2 linked regions of the Homo sapiens genome follow. The protein of the gene in region 1 interacts with the protein of each later gene in a biochemical or structural test. Each region holds a gene or a part of one and is shown in the gene's direction. Other genes may lie near its edges.

Region 1 (3,500 bases):
GTTCACAACTCAGTTGCACAAGTACTTTTTCCTTGAGACAGTCGTCCTTAAGTAGAAGTTGGTATGCAGCAGAAGTGGCTTATATGTAATCTTCATTTTTTTCACACAATTAGAAAAGGCCAATATTTAATAAAAGTAATCATTTTTTACTGTTTCCTCAAGGAATTCTTAAGTGAGCTGACTTTTAAACAAATTTTAGATGTGAAATCAGTGACAACTATTGCATCTTGATGTCATTACCTTAATTCATTCTAAAGCACCAGCAGTCTTACCCCTATGGCATCAATTCAAGTGTTAATACAATTTTTTTTTTAAAAAAAGTATTAGTATTATCATTAGGAAAATAGTTTTGACCCTGTGTACTCTCTGTAAAGGTCTCAGGACCCACATAGGGGCCCGTGGACCATGCTTTGAGTGCCACTCTTTTAGTTTACCATTGCTTCTTTTGCACATGAGTGTCACTTTTAATTAATACAGGCTCTTAAAGGACCTTATAGTATAGGGGTTAAAAGACATGGACTGTAGAGTCACTTAGGTCTGGGTTTGAACTCTGGTTTCTCCACTTAGTAATTATGGAGGCTAACTTAATTATGTCTAAGCCTTTGAAATGTTTAACAATGCCTAGCATAAAGTACATGCAGAGTAAATGGAACCTCTTACTATTTCTGCCAACTTACATAGTCATACATTGCATCCAAGTAAACCCCTATGTTCCATATCAGAATAACATTTTGCTTACAAAATTCCTCTTGTACCTCTGTGTGCCATAATCCAAACCACATCATACAAATTTGGGAAGGCTTCTTATTCCCCTTATTTAACAGTCACCTGAAAACCTACTTTCTCCCACATACTTCAGCCAAATTGTCACATACATACTAGTTTATGACTTCATTTCTTTAATCCTATGTTTTAAGTGGGTTACTAAATGCTTTATGTAGATTTTGTCACTGTTTTCTCAAAACATTGTAAATATAATCAGAAAACAACTATAATTCACACTATTTAGTACCCAGAATGAAAATGATTTAAGGTCATAGATATTTGTTGGTAATACAAGATTAAGTTGATTATTAAAGATGCTAAACTTTCCCAGGCACAGTGGCTCATGCCTGTAATCCTATTGCTTTGAGAGGCTGAGGCAGGAGGATTGCTTGATACTGGGAGTTTGAGACCATCCTAGGCAATATGGTGAGACCTTGTCTCTACAAAAAAATAAAAATAAAAAATTTAGCTGGATGTGGTGGCACACACCTGTAGTCATACCTATTTAGGAGGCTGAGGCAGGAGGATCGCTTGAGCCCAGAAAGTGGAGGCTGCAATGAACTATGACCATGCCACTGCACTCCAGCCTGGGTGACAAGAATGAGGTCTCATCTCAGATAGATAGAAATTTTTAAATGCTGACTTATTTTCTATTACTGTTTATTTACTATTCGGACAAAATTTAGTCACCTGTCATTTTTTCCCTAAATTTTTATTTACTTTAAACTTAATGTAAATTAGATTTTAACTAATGATGTATTTTGACAAACATGGAATTTCATGAATTTTTTTACTAACAAAAGTCGGAATCCTAAGATAGTATGTTTTTTACTAGTTCAGTGATGGACATATTGTCTAATATTAGAAGGTAAATCATAGTCTATCTCAGTGTCCTGTTCTTTAATAAAAACTTTAGTTTGCACATATCTACTCTTTATGTTTTTTAAAGTATGTCTTTCTGGACCCTTGAGGTAAGTGTTACATAAATTTATTTAGTTGAGTAGTTTTATCCCGAAAGACCTATGTTAAGTGGTCTCTGCTTGGTTGTATTAAATGGCCCTGTCCTGTTTGCCACCTGTTCTTCCTCTTCACACTGGCTTTTTAGCCACTTTAAGCTGTTACTGGTCCAGAAAAACAAGCAAGATAATACCTTAAGGTTTTCAAATAATTGTTAACATCACTCCTTGTTCTTTAGTAGGTGTGAAACCCAAATATTCTCCAGCTCTTTTTAAAATAGTGCAGAGGATTTGGTTCCTTGAGGCCGGGAGTTTGAGACCATCCTAGGCAGTATAGTGAGACCTCATCTCTACAAAAAATAAAAAATTTAGCTGGGTGTGGTGGCACACACCTATAGTCCTACCTATTTAGGGTAGGTTTGGTTCCTTATTTCACTTTTGAATATTATGTGGAGATGTTCATTTTACTACAGATATATCTATAGAATTGGGTTCATTGTTGATCAGCTGTTTCAGACACCTTAAATTTGTTCACGTTTTTTCTCTTAATGTTGTGAATAATTTTTCCCAATTCCCTTTTTATTCTCCAGCTTTAAAACAATGACAGTACAGGTTGAGCGTCCAAATCCAAAAATCTGAAATCCACAATGCTCCAAAATCTGAAACTTTAAGCACCTACGTGATGCTTAAAGGAAACACTCATTGGAGCATACCAGATTTTGGATTAGGGATGCTCAGTCTCTAAGTATTATGCAAACATTCTAAAATCCAAAAAAATCCAAAATCTGAAACACTTGTGTTCCCAAGCATTTCACATAAGGGATACTCAATGATGAAAAGTTTAATTAAGACCAATAAACAAATAAAAAATAGGATCCGCCTCATTAGTCATTAGGGAAACACAGCTCTAAAGCATGATGAGATACCACTTTACACCCACTAGGATGGCAGTATATAAAAAGAAAATAACAGGTGTTGGTGAGGATGTGGAGAAAGTGGAACCCTCATACATGCCTGATGGGAATGTAAAATGGTACGGCTGCTTTGGAATGCAGTTTGGCAGTTCCTCAAAAAGTTAAACAGTTAACATGTGACCCAGCAGTTCTACTAATTAGATATAAATCCAGGAGAATTGCAAACATAATGTCTGCACAAAAACTTGTAAATGAGTGTTCATAGCAGCATTATCCATAACAGCCAAAAGAGGGAAACAACTTGGCTGGGCGCAGTGGCTCACGCCTGTAATCCCAAGCACTTTGGGAGGCCAAGGCGGGCCGGATCACCTGAGGTTGGGAGTTGGGAAACCAGCACTACCAACATGGAGAAACCCCGTCTCTACTAAAAATACAAAATTAGCCAGGCATGGTGGCGCATGCCTGTGATCCCAGCTACCTGGGAGGCTGAGGCAGGAGAATCACTTGAACCCAGGAGGTGGAGGTTGCAGTGAGCTGAGATCGGGCCATTACACTCCAGCCTGGGCAACAAAAGCAAAACTCCTTCTCAAAAATAATAAATAAATATAAATAATTTAAATAAATAAAATAAAAGAAGGAAACAACCCAAATACCCATTAACTGATGAATGCACAAAGTATGGTATATGCATACAATGGAGTATTGTTCCGCTATAAAATGAAGTATAATAGTTCACCCTTATCTGCAGTTTTAGTTACCTGCAGTCAACTGTGATCAGAAACTAGGTGAATATGTGATACAACAAGATATTAATATTTAGAGAGAAAGAGATCCCACATTCACATGACTTTTCTTACAATATATT
Region 2 (3,500 bases), on another chromosome or scaffold:
AGAGAATGTGCATCCTTCCCCAAACCCCGAAGACAGGCAGCTTTGGCTTAAATATGCTTATTTATTTTCAAAATTAGAAAATAAACACATTAATGTAAATATGTTGAGACAGACAAAGAAATTTGTCTGCTACTTAATAAACACGCGATTTATACTTTTTGTCTTCTAATTAATTGTCGACCCTGAATAAGGTGGTACAACTAAGGCATATTATGGAAAACTGGCATTATTGCTTAATGTAACATGAGGGATTGGAATTTCTTTAAAGTAATTTTAAGATATGATTATTTAGCAGAAATATTCACTGGAGCATTTTACTTTTAGAAATTATCGTCACACAAGGAAGCCTTTATAGGACCGACTACCTAATTGCAGTCAAAGATCTCTTGAATGAATGAACACACACACACAGAAGAACACACATTTTAAGAATATAGTGGTCCTATATTTTTAAAAATTTTTGCCACATTTTTTATATCTGAACAGAACGTATGTGTCTAAGCAGATGTTTTAAGTTATATCCTTCATGTAGGTGAGTCTGTAAATGTACCATTTAACTTAAATGGCTTTGTGGGAAGGTAGTTTGAGGAGTTTAAAAAGGAAAAAAAAAAAAAAAAAAAACTCCAGTTACTACAGTTTCAGCTCTTTCTTTTTAAAAAACAGTAATTACACTCAGGATAAAGAAAGAAAAATAAACTCTTTTAATTCTTTGTAACATCCACAGTTTTTCAGGTAGAGTTCTGGTATATTTTTATTCCTGAATATGCAGGGCAGGTACTGGCAGCAGAGCTACAAAATGAAAACTTCCTGGCTGCAGACCAGATACTGTGCACAGTGCCACATCATAAACTTCCCCTCTTCTGTCTCGGAGTGATTTCAGCCCTAACTAATGTCCTTTATTTCCCCCTACATAGGGTAAGGAACAGAGGGCCTTCTTCCTGGGAAATAGGGGAAATACCTTTGGGAAAGGAAAAGTATAATGTTTCCCTTCTTTAACTTGAAAATTCTGCCTCTTAAATTACTAAGACATTAACTGCAAAGTGGATTCAGTATGTTTCCTTTTTATTCCCATATAGCAGTTTAGAATACATAAAACAATAGGTGTGAGATAGAAAATGAGACCTCTTCCCCACCCCCTACCTCCAGCACACCCAGACCCAATCAGATATCTGTACTTTTTGTTTCGAAAAGAAAAATATAATGGTTTCTTTTCAATGAAGCTTGTGCATTATATTCCAGATATGTTAGATCATTTTGTGATGCAAATTAGCATTGAGGTTTTTTGTACTTATCTCGGGAAATAGCAACGTTCCACCACAATGTGTGGTGCTGCAAAAATTTTTATTGATAAACACCCACACTTTAAATGATTATTAGGTCAAAATAGAGAGTACAGGGGGAGAAAATGTGAGCTTTTAGTTTTCAGATTTGTTTTATGCTTTTCATTTGAAAGGTACAGTGTAAGTTCTGTGTATAATACCATGCAAAATAAATTGACTTCTAAATATCTGCACTAATATTCCTTGTATCTGAAACTATAGTCTAAAAGCTTGTACTTCTCCTTAAAAAATAAAGTAAAACTTTGTTAAGAAGCAGGCTTTAATTACCAGTTACATTTTCAACTGTTACCCATGTGATTTTTAAAAAATCCTATTAAAAAATAATTTCTAGCTGCCATGGCTCCTTTCAATCAGTAGAATTCTCATTTGTATGAGGTGCAATCAGATTATTGCCAGCACACCTTTCTAAAACTAGCCTTCTTCTTTAGAAATGTATTAAATGGGAGCCTTCAGGAGAAAGTGTTACCACTTAATAAATATTTGTTCTAATTTTATTTTTAAACTAAATTATTGATTTAACAGTATATGAATAGTGTATAAATGTTAGCTTAGTTGTTAACCCACTACACTAATTATTAATTGCCTATATGAAATTTACCAAATTAGACCAACAGTTAAGTGTAATTTAATTTTATTTCTCTTGAAACTTAAATAGATAAGAATGATAATTTTAATTATGTTTAAATATCAAGCATTTATTTTTCTGTGAATGCAAATGTTCCCGATAAATTGTTAAGAAATTAATACAACATAGATCTTAAAAAATGTATAAGGCAGCTTATAAGAATATGATAACAATGGCATATTCCTACACCTGGCACTTTTTCAAGACCCATTAGCAAGGGAGGAAAAAGATGTTAAACTTTGTTTTGTAAATGCTAATATATATATGAGTCAATACTTTCTGACATTTATTTGTTAGAAAATTACACACATTTAAAAATTCAAATTAAAACTATGCTTCTATTTAGGCTATTGTAAGAGATTTCTTTATTTTCTTGGAAATTCTCTGGAACAGTAGGGTCATTTGAATCATACCCGTTGGTATTGTCAGATACATTGTAAAGTTTCAACTATTGAACATATGTATGGAATAGAAATTTTAAAATAGAAAATTCGCTATCTTGCCATTTAAGTATGATAAAACTATACCCGATTAAAACGTTGACTCTATTAGAGGTTCGCCTAGTAAGTAATTCTCTGGTCAAGAATTTGGGAAATTTTAAACTCTGTTAACCATTAAAACAATTACTTCTTTAAGGTACCGGATTTTCATCCATATTTGAGGAGCCTTATTAAGTTGTTGGGTGGTCTTTTTGTAAAGGTTTATGTGGTTAAAAAAGTAGATCTTTTCACCCTTCTATTACAGTTAACATTAATATCTTTAAAAGGTACTATATAAATCCAGACCTAATTTATTCTGGATGATTTTTCTTAACTAAATGAAATCTAACAAATTTGTCTATTTTTAAGTGAATCTTTTTTTTATTTCTAGTATTTATTGGAAGTTCACTTAGACTCTATATAGGTTAGAAGTTAAAGTAAATAATTTTGACTATTTTTTTCTTTCATTTCATGTTTGAATATTTCCCCCTTTACATAAACCAAAAAAAAAAAAAAAAAAAAAAAAAAAAAATCCGTGACGACATTGATAGATTTGCAGAAGGCTGAGTAAGATACTCAGTACCCATTAATTGTTTCCCTATGACTCTTGGGTTGAAATGAATCGGCAATATCCCTTCCAAGACTGTTTGATCTTGCTTGATTTAGAGTGAGCGTTATGTGATTTTTTCCCTCCGCTTCTCTCATTTTATAGCTTCAAAAAAATCAGAGAATTCTTGACTTCAGTGTTTTTTCCTTCCGTTTTCATTGTTTTTGGATTCTCTCCTGTCTGAGCTTCCTTCTTGCTTCAAAGTATTTGGTATCGTGAAAGCAAGTGCACTTTTAACTTGTTTTGACTACACATGGGCGACAGAATTGTTTTAGATGCTAACTTACCTCCTTACACTTGAGAAACTGATGTGGTTCATCACAGCCCAATGCCATGTCTTGAAACAACTGCGGACACTGATCTTGAAATAGCCAGGGCTATAGGATCATGTCTTTGTAAAGAACAACAGCAGCTTTAGAGTCACTGGATGGTATATTCGTTGCAAACAT

The links. Proteins that work in one complex are often made in the same cells at the same time.
Region 2: the proteins of KPNA4 (region 1) and MEF2C interact in a test that uses a peptide from one of them, tested with the Homo sapiens proteins (one large-scale study listed by BioGRID and IntAct).

Annotation. Positions count from the first base shown.
Region 1 is NC_000003.12:160,555,572-160,559,071, reverse strand, and holds part of KPNA4 (importin subunit alpha-3), read left to right. Parts: intron 1-3,500. UniProt on the Homo sapiens protein: Functions in nuclear protein import as an adapter protein for nuclear receptor KPNB1. Binds specifically and directly to substrates containing either a simple or bipartite NLS motif.
Region 2 is NC_000005.10:88,873,185-88,876,684, reverse strand, and holds part of MEF2C (myocyte-specific enhancer factor 2C), read left to right. Parts: intron 1-3,500. UniProt on the Homo sapiens protein: Transcription activator which binds specifically to the MEF2 element present in the regulatory regions of many muscle-specific genes. Controls cardiac morphogenesis and myogenesis, and is also involved in vascular development.